Linked DNA regions of Homo sapiens. The protein of the gene in region 2 purifies or fractionates together with the protein of the main gene of each other region. This does not show direct contact. Each region holds a gene or a part of one and is shown on either strand. Other genes may lie near its edges.

The links.
Region 1: the proteins of ASB5 (region 2) and GCN1 purify together in Homo sapiens (affinity purification with mass spectrometry, with the first as the bait; one large-scale study listed by BioGRID). This does not show direct contact.

Annotation. Positions count from the first base shown.
Region 1 is NC_000012.12:120,160,184-120,164,004, forward strand, and holds part of GCN1 (stalled ribosome sensor GCN1), read right to left. Parts: intron 3,077-3,821; coding exon 2,887-3,076; intron 2,789-2,886; coding exon 2,664-2,788; intron 1,876-2,663; coding exon 1,697-1,875; intron 1,401-1,696; coding exon 1,307-1,400; intron 73-1,306; coding exon 1-72. UniProt on the Homo sapiens protein: Ribosome collision sensor that plays a key role in the RNF14-RNF25 translation quality control pathway, a pathway that takes place when a ribosome has stalled during translation, and which promotes ubiquitination and degradation of translation factors on stalled ribosomes.
Region 2 is NC_000004.12:176,213,034-176,217,404, reverse strand, and holds the end of ASB5 (ankyrin repeat and SOCS box protein 5), read left to right. Parts: intron 1-395; coding exon 396-587; intron 588-1,677; coding exon 1,678-1,805; 3' UTR 1,806-3,732; downstream 3,733-4,371. UniProt on the Homo sapiens protein: May be a substrate-recognition component of a SCF-like ECS (Elongin-Cullin-SOCS-box protein) E3 ubiquitin-protein ligase complex which mediates the ubiquitination and subsequent proteasomal degradation of target proteins.

The DNA.
Region 1 (3,821 bases), on a different chromosome or scaffold from region 2:
GGCCTGCAGCATCTCCTTCTGCTTGCTGGTCAGCTGCACCTCCTCTTTGATGCCTTTCTTCTTCTTTATCTCCTAAAGAGGATGGGCAAACCAACCAATCCCATCTCCAGGGAACAGACCTCCCTCCCCAACAGAGGAAGGTGAGCTTGCTTCCACACAAACAGCACCATACCAGCTCTAAGTGTGAGTTGGGCCCCTGAACCCACCATGTGCACCCCCAACCTCCCACAAAGTCCACAGCCACCTGGTTTCTATAGAATGGAGACAGCAATAGAGAAGTAGTTGTTTTACTGGATTCTCTACTGACAAAGGCTAAGAGGGCTTTTTATGTTAGAGAAATAAAGGTTCCTCAATGTACTCAAAAGGGTATTCTGACAGCCAAATGGATTCAGAATCAAAACTTTAGCCTCCTCCTCTCCAACCCCTTCCTACATAAGCTCTCCCACAGGATAAGCTGAAGCTTAGAAAAGGCCTGCTATAGTGGCCTGAGACAACAAGCCACAGAACTCACTCACTCATTCAGCAAACATTTAGTGAGCACCTGGATTGTGCCAGGCACTGTTCCAGATGGCAGGAATATCGTAGGAACAAGATAAAGTCCCTGCCCTCACGGAGCTCACAATCTAGCAGGCGAAGATAGATAATAAACAAGTCAACAAGCACATAAACAAGATGCTTTTGGGTTATGATAAATGTTAGTAAAGAAACAAATATGATGTTTAGTAAAAGGGAGGAAGGGTGGGGTCTACTTTGGATAGGGTGGACAAGCTGGCCACCTCTCTGAGAAGCACACATGTGGACTGAGATGAGAAAGACAAGAAGAATCCTGCCTTGTAAAGACAGAGAGAAGAGCAAACGCTGAGAAGGAAAGAGTCCTGTGTGCTCTGCTCCTGTCAGAACCTGCTCTGCCCAAAGCTGAATTCAGCAATCAAGTCATGATTCCCCAGAAGTCCCACTGTACCAGGCGCTGTGCCTGCTATCAGGAGTCTAGATGGGTCCCAGTCTTCAAGGAAGTGGAGGGACAGACATGGAATCCAGCAACACCACTTAGCAGAGGAGACACGTGCACTGTCGCCAGCACCCAGCAGAGAAAGAAACCGGTTTTGAGTTGTGGGTGGAAGAAGCTATGAAGCAAGGGTGAAGGGAAAGTGTGCCAGTGCACCAGACACTGGTCAGGGGCATCAGAGGAGTGTGCCATGGGCCTCAGGATGTTCCAAGTGAACAGCATATGTGCAGTGGGAAAAGCCACCAGCTTGAGGCCACCAAGCTCAGCAGCCACCTTCCGTAAGTGCCTCCGTGTACTCACCTCCTTCAGCTCCAGCTCGATGATCTGCTCTTTGAAGGAATAAGCTTTGTTCTCTCGCTTCATGTTGGCCTTTTTTATGCTGTCCTGCTGGGCACTGAAACACCAGAGTGGGTCATCAGCCAGCTTGAAAAGCACCGCAAGTCCTGTCAGCCTCCCGCCAGCCATGCAATTCCAACTAGCTGTTAAGCACTGTGCACCAGCACAGTGCCGGATACTGGACACACTTAAATACCCAGGACCTAAGCACCGTGCCGGGGACACAACAGGCGCTTAGCCAATGAATGGATAGGCTGTTGCATTCAACTCACAGGAGGCACTGGCTCCATTCTACACACAAGAAAACTATGCCTTGGGGAGCAAAGGAAACTGAGCCCATAAGTGAGGTCTCACCTCTGAATGATGGATTTGTCATACAGCTCCCCAGCAGGGGTCTGCATAATGGCAAACTCCTCCCGCGTCACCAGGCGCAGTGCAGGGTTCTGCACGGAGGCAGTGATGGTGCTGATGAGCTGTGGGAGGACCCGGTCCGGCGACAGGACGGAAAGGGAGCCCATGGCATTCATGGAGGACTGCCAGACAAACGCAGACATGGTCAGTGTGTGCCAAGGCTGGCACTGGCAAGAGGTCCACCACACCTGAATGCCCCTAGCACTGGCTCCCCTTCTTTATGCCACTGCCTTGTTACTCCTGGGCAATGCCCATCACAGTGGCCGGCTGGAGTCTGCGTCTGCTTTCCTCACCAAGCAGTGCTCCTCTGTCTGACACAGCACCTGACGTGAGGTGATACACTCCTTCCCAATTCTCAATCTCCGTGGTTCAGGTGGAGCTGCCCTCACTTTTTCCAGAGGTAGGCATGTGACCCAGAACAGAAGGATGGGTGCAGAGATGAGCATGGCACCCAAGTCAGATTAATCAGGGTCAAAGCGACCCCAAGCCAGTAGACATTATTGAAATATGCAAGCTATTCCCCTAGGAGCTGATGGCAAGACAAAGCCTGGAACTCTAGCAGCTCTTGTGCTACCAGAAAGGGAAAGCCTGAGAATGGAGCCCACATCGTGGAAAACAGAGACAACAGACAAAGATGGATGGGACAGAGTAAGAGAGACATCACCTACAATGTTCCAAGGGCAACATGTGAACCCCTGTAGCCAGTCATATCCTTGGACTTTGCAGGTAAATGAGGCAGTAAGTTCCCTTTTGTGCTTAAACCAGTTTACATTTCTGTCACGTGCAACCAAGGGTCCAAGCCTACATTTCATCCATCTTCACCTGCTTCTTTGAATCCTCTCTTCCTGTACACTGTGATGAGAGGGCCCCCTCCCGGACCTGAGGCCAGACCAGCTCATGTGCCCGTCACCTGGTTTAGGGGACTCTGTGTGGTCATCCTGGGAATGATCTGATCCAGGTGCCTGGTGATAAAGGCTTCAGGATCGATCTTCATCCTGGCAAGAAGTGCTGGCCAAAGTCCAGACTGCACGGCAACTGAAGGGGAAGGGAGCTCTTTGAGGCCTTCTGCCTGGCCTGCTCTTACCCCATCCCCTAAAGCTCTGGGCTCTCCCACACCCACCGCAGCCACGGACCTAAGGATGGGTGGTGGGAGATGATCAGCATTTCCTGGGCCAGTTGTTCAGTGTCGGTGACATCACCCTTGAGCCCTGGCACACCGGAGATGACACACAGAGCCTCCTGCAGGACCCGTGGAGGCACGTAGGCCTTGCCTGCCTCAGTCACCTCTCCAGCATCAGTCACCAAAGCCTCTAAGGGCAGCACCTGTGTGGAGACACATGAGATAATACTGCTAAGAGCCCTGTGCAGGCTTGGAACACAGGAACCAAATATGCTACGGACACAGCGGCCCCTCACTCAGTTCTTCCCTGGGGTCCTTGCTGGAGTAGAAATGGATGCCCAGCTTCCTGCAATGGGACCCACAGGCTGTGAGATGTGCCTGGAAGAAGGAAGCACCTGTGGCTTTGCATCTAAAAAGCCTGCAGGGGTAAAGAAGGCACCAGGAACTGGTCCAGGAGACCCAGCCTGTGGTGGCAAGTCTGTCACTGGCCCACATTCCTCAACAGGCTTTGGGAGGGAGGGAAGCAGTGGAACACGGCACAAAGAGCACAGAAATAACAGCCAGGTCTTTGAGGGTCTCCCTCCGTCGGGGGAGACCCTGTGCAAGTCATTTGAACTCCTAGAACCCTGGTCAATTCATATGACACAAGAATAACAAGCCCTATTTGCCTTTGAAACGCATTGTTAAAAAAAAAATCAAAAGGAAAAAATGGGTAGAAAATGCTTTAAAAAGTACAAAGTGCTTTAAAAACATAAAGTGTTATTCAATTAATCAAGGATAAAGGGGGAGGGCACGGTGGCTCGTGCCTGTAATCCCAACACTTTGGGAAGCCGAGGTAGGAGGATCACTTCAGCCTAGAAGTTCGAGATCAGCCTGGGCGACATGGCGAGACCCCATCTCTACAAAAAATCAAAAATCAAAAAATTAGCGGCCACTGCAGGTGGTGTG
Region 2 (4,371 bases):
GCTATCAACCATGATGAAAATAAAAATGAGTGAACTTAATTGTGCACTCTTTATAATAGTAGTTAGTATGGTTACTTTTGGAATCATTTAAAAGTTAAAAAGAATTTTATTATGATAGTTCAAGCATACAGAAAAGTATCAGAGAGTCACATAACAAATGTATGTACCCTCTGCCATTCAGATGTGCCCAGTTTATATATATGTATATGTACATATGAGGCATATATGTGTATGTAGATACTGTATATGTATATAAAGAAATAACTCATAACAAATAGAGTTGAAGTCCCCTTAATAACCTTCCTCTATTGCCTTTCCTTTTCTATCCCCACTGAGGCAGCTGGCTTATTTAACAACTTTTATTTATATTTATCTTCACTCCGTATTACATGTAGGTGCTGACGTACAGAAAGGCAAATATTGGGATACTCCATTACATGCTGCTGCTCAACAATCCAGCACAGAAATTGTAAACTTACTGCTAGAATTTGGAGCAGATATCAATGCCAAAAATACAGAGCTTCTGCGACCTATAGATGTAGCTACGTCTAGCAGTATGGTGGAAAGGATATTGCTTCAACATGAAGGTAAGAAAAATACATGTGGAAACTTACAAAAACAAAATATATTTGCCTAAAATAGATGAAAGTGAGAGAGTTTTTGTTGGCATGGAAAGTAACAATGGCATAAAATGTGGAATATTATTTGTGAAAGTAGATGATTTTTAACTTAGGTTTTATCTATAAAGAAGATATCAGCCGAGTGTGGTGGCTCACACCTGTAATCCCAGCACTTTGGGAGGCCAAGGCGGGTGGATCACAAGGTCAAGAGATCAAGGCCATCCTGGCCAACATGGTGAAACCCTGTCTCTACTAAAAACACAAAAATTAGCTGGGCATGGTGGTGCGTGCCTGTAATCTCAGCTACTCAGGAGGCTGCGGAAGGAGAATCACTTGAACCCGGGAGGCGGAGGTTGCAGTGAGCCAGGATTACGCCACTGCACTCCAACCTGGCAACAGAGTGAGACTCCATCTAAAAAAAAGAAAAAAAATGATAATTTTAATTTTCTCTTTCATCTTACCTAAACTCTCATATATTTTTGGTTAAATATATTCAATTAGTTTCAGTAATGCATTATATGCACTTCTGGTATAATATCTGCTGATTTATATTTGGAGCATGCCCCATTTTATAAGGACATGAACCTTCTATAACATATTATAGAAATAAAATTAGTAAATATTTTTACATTTGAGACTTTTGTTCTAAAATAGGATTTCTTAATCCTAGTCCAGGGACTATAATATTTCTTTTAGGGTAAATATTAAACTTAATTTTAAAATTTCCCCTTTTAGTGCATAATACTTCTCAGGACTTTTGATTTATATCTCCTTCAAAAAGCAGACTTTGTTTCTGAGGCTTTAAATTCAACAATTATTTCCTAAGCCTGAGGATTATAATATTTTAAGGAATGTATATGGAATATATCTCAATTATAATAAGATCTTATAAATAAAAGCAATATAACTGCTTACATAAATTTCCCTAGTATAGTGGTCATGCTATCCTAGGTTTACTACAAAGCATTGTAGTTTTTATGGTTTTATGTTATGTACCTTACAACATAAAAAATTCATTTCTATTTTAATTAACAAATAGATTCATGTCTTCTTGTAGCTACCCCAAGCTCTCTTTACCAACTTTGCCGACTCTGTATCCGAAGCTACATAGGAAAACCAAGATTGCACCTTATCCCACAACTCCAGCTGCCAACGTTACTGAAGAATTTCTTACAGTATCGATAAAACAGTAAAGTAATTCTAAATACCTTGAAAATCAAAATTTCTATTTCTTTTGCTTAAGGAATAGTTCATATAAAAATATGCTAAAGATAGGATAAAAGTGAGTGTGAGATCACCCAGGGAAGCAGTAAAATATCAATTTTCATTTTAAGTGTATTAGTACTATTGTTTTATCATTTATGCTGTCTTTGGATTATAGCATATTTATAATATCTATTTTTTGTTATTTCAATATACCCTCCTGTTTATTCAGGAAAAAATAATAAAGTCACTATCTTATGTTTTCTTTTGGATTGGAAAGAAATAAAGCTCCTAGTAAAGTTATTCATATTATATTTAAAAAGGTCTATGTTCTTCAACTAATGGGTTAACTTTTTAATTTTGGCTATTGTAATTGGCTAACTTGTTACTGATATTGACATAAAATATGAATATGGCTTAGCAAAGAGCAACTAATATGTTTTCTGAAACCAGGATGATGCTCATTCAGGAAATCCACTATGTTGAATGTCCACTGGTCATTAGAATGAACACTTCATAAAGATAAATTGCCCCCCTCTCCCCCACTTACCCCTGGCAAAGGACTCACAAGTCACTTCTCTTCTCCATAGTACATGGACTTGTTACAGAAAAGTGATAGGATGAAAGGTCAATACTGCCCTCTCACCCTGAGATATTTAGAACATTACACACCTTCTAAGGCTATGTTAAGACTGCCTCCTTCTCAGGAGTAGCCCCTGATGATCTCTTATCAAGGCGGTTATATGCATATTACTCCAGCCTTCTTCCATTTCAGAAATTGTCAATAGCTAGTGATACTTGGACTTAAGAAAATGAACTATATATCTAATTAACAAACAGGCCCTGGATCATATTCCGGGGATCATCACATCAGTCCAAGGATATAAAAAAATGGAAGATTAAAAACTCAAATTGTGGAGTTTTTAAAGAGTGGGTGCCACTTAACACATTGGAGACCTTAAAAAATGTATATAGAGAACTTAATCGCACTGTTTCTAATTCTTTTTACACAAAACAAGGGCTTAGAGTATACTGTATTTGCAAGTAATAGCAAGAGAGTATTGTATAAAAGAAGATATTACTAAGCTAGTCCTCTGCAAGGGTAAATACTACGTTTATTCTCTTCAGCTTTAACTATACTTGAGTGCAATAAAAAACTTAATAAAATTTTATGCCTGTTTTGTAATTCAGGGCCTATTATGATTTTAGAAATAAGATAATCAACGTACAACTCTTTGTAAAACAAAAGCAACTTTGGGTGAGTTTTATAGATTTATTAAATTTTGATAAAGTAAATATTTTGACCACTATTTTCAACAACCCAGGGCTTATTTTCTTCTGACTTCTTGGCTAACTTCCAGACTATGGGAAAATAAATTATGATTGTATGTGACCCCCAGATCACTAAGCTTGCATTTTGGCAGAAAGAAAAAAAATCAGTTGTGATTTAAAACGTTTGTTGAGATTTTCAAACATAGAAATAAAGCTGTAGCATATTCACTAAACAATGTTTTATATGAGGATAGGGACCTTTAAATATGTGTTTTATAGAATATCTCACACATTTGTAATGGATAACGTGCATTAAAATGGAGTTCTTATTATAGAATAACCTGGTTAAACAGATATTAAAGCTGCTTTTGGGTAAAACAGGTTTCCACCAGTATTTTCCCTGAGCTAGAGGAGAAGTCTTAGATTTTAAGAGTAATACAACCCATCTATCTTATTAGTCTTGTGCCAATAAGAGAAGTAAATATCAAACATTAAAATGGTCACTTTACAATTTCAGTATGTCTGTACCTTGTATCTTAGCTTGAGTATGATTGTCTTATCAAAGTAGTGTTCTAACTTTAATGTATTGTATGTTTGTTATTATATTAAAGTGTGATTATTATTCATTGGAATAAAACACTTTGTGTTTGTCTCATTATTTTATTTTATAATGAAAAGTCATGGAGTGACTCAGTTGCACTAATTTTTTTCACCACCAGTTTCCAAATCACTGAATCATGAGCATTAAGATAGAGTAGCACAGAATAAAAAATAGATACCTCAAAGACCTTCTAATCCAAGACATATTTTATATATATGTGACATATAATACATATAATATATGTGATATTTAATACATATAATATACATATATACATATATGTATACACACACATTAAAGTTCAAGGACAAAATTTCACAAAGTAAAAGAAACAAAATAGTTACTATGTGACATAAGATTTAAGAAATTTAGTAAAACAATAACTGTAGATAGACACTGTTGAAACAATTTTTTTGGATTAAAAAAGTAATTAAATTCTATTGTTTTAATAACCACAGCATATATTTGGTGTTTCTGAGAAAGTAAATAGATATGTAGTAGAAAAGAAAGGCCTCTTCAGAGTAGAAGGTTTTCTTTGTTCCATCATAGCACTGAGCTCAACTGACTAGTGATCCAGCTACAAAATAACTTAAAAATTATCCTTTCCCTTGGATTATTCCCACTTTTTTACTTCAGTTTCTCTGTTATTCTTATTATCATTTAGAATTTACTTTA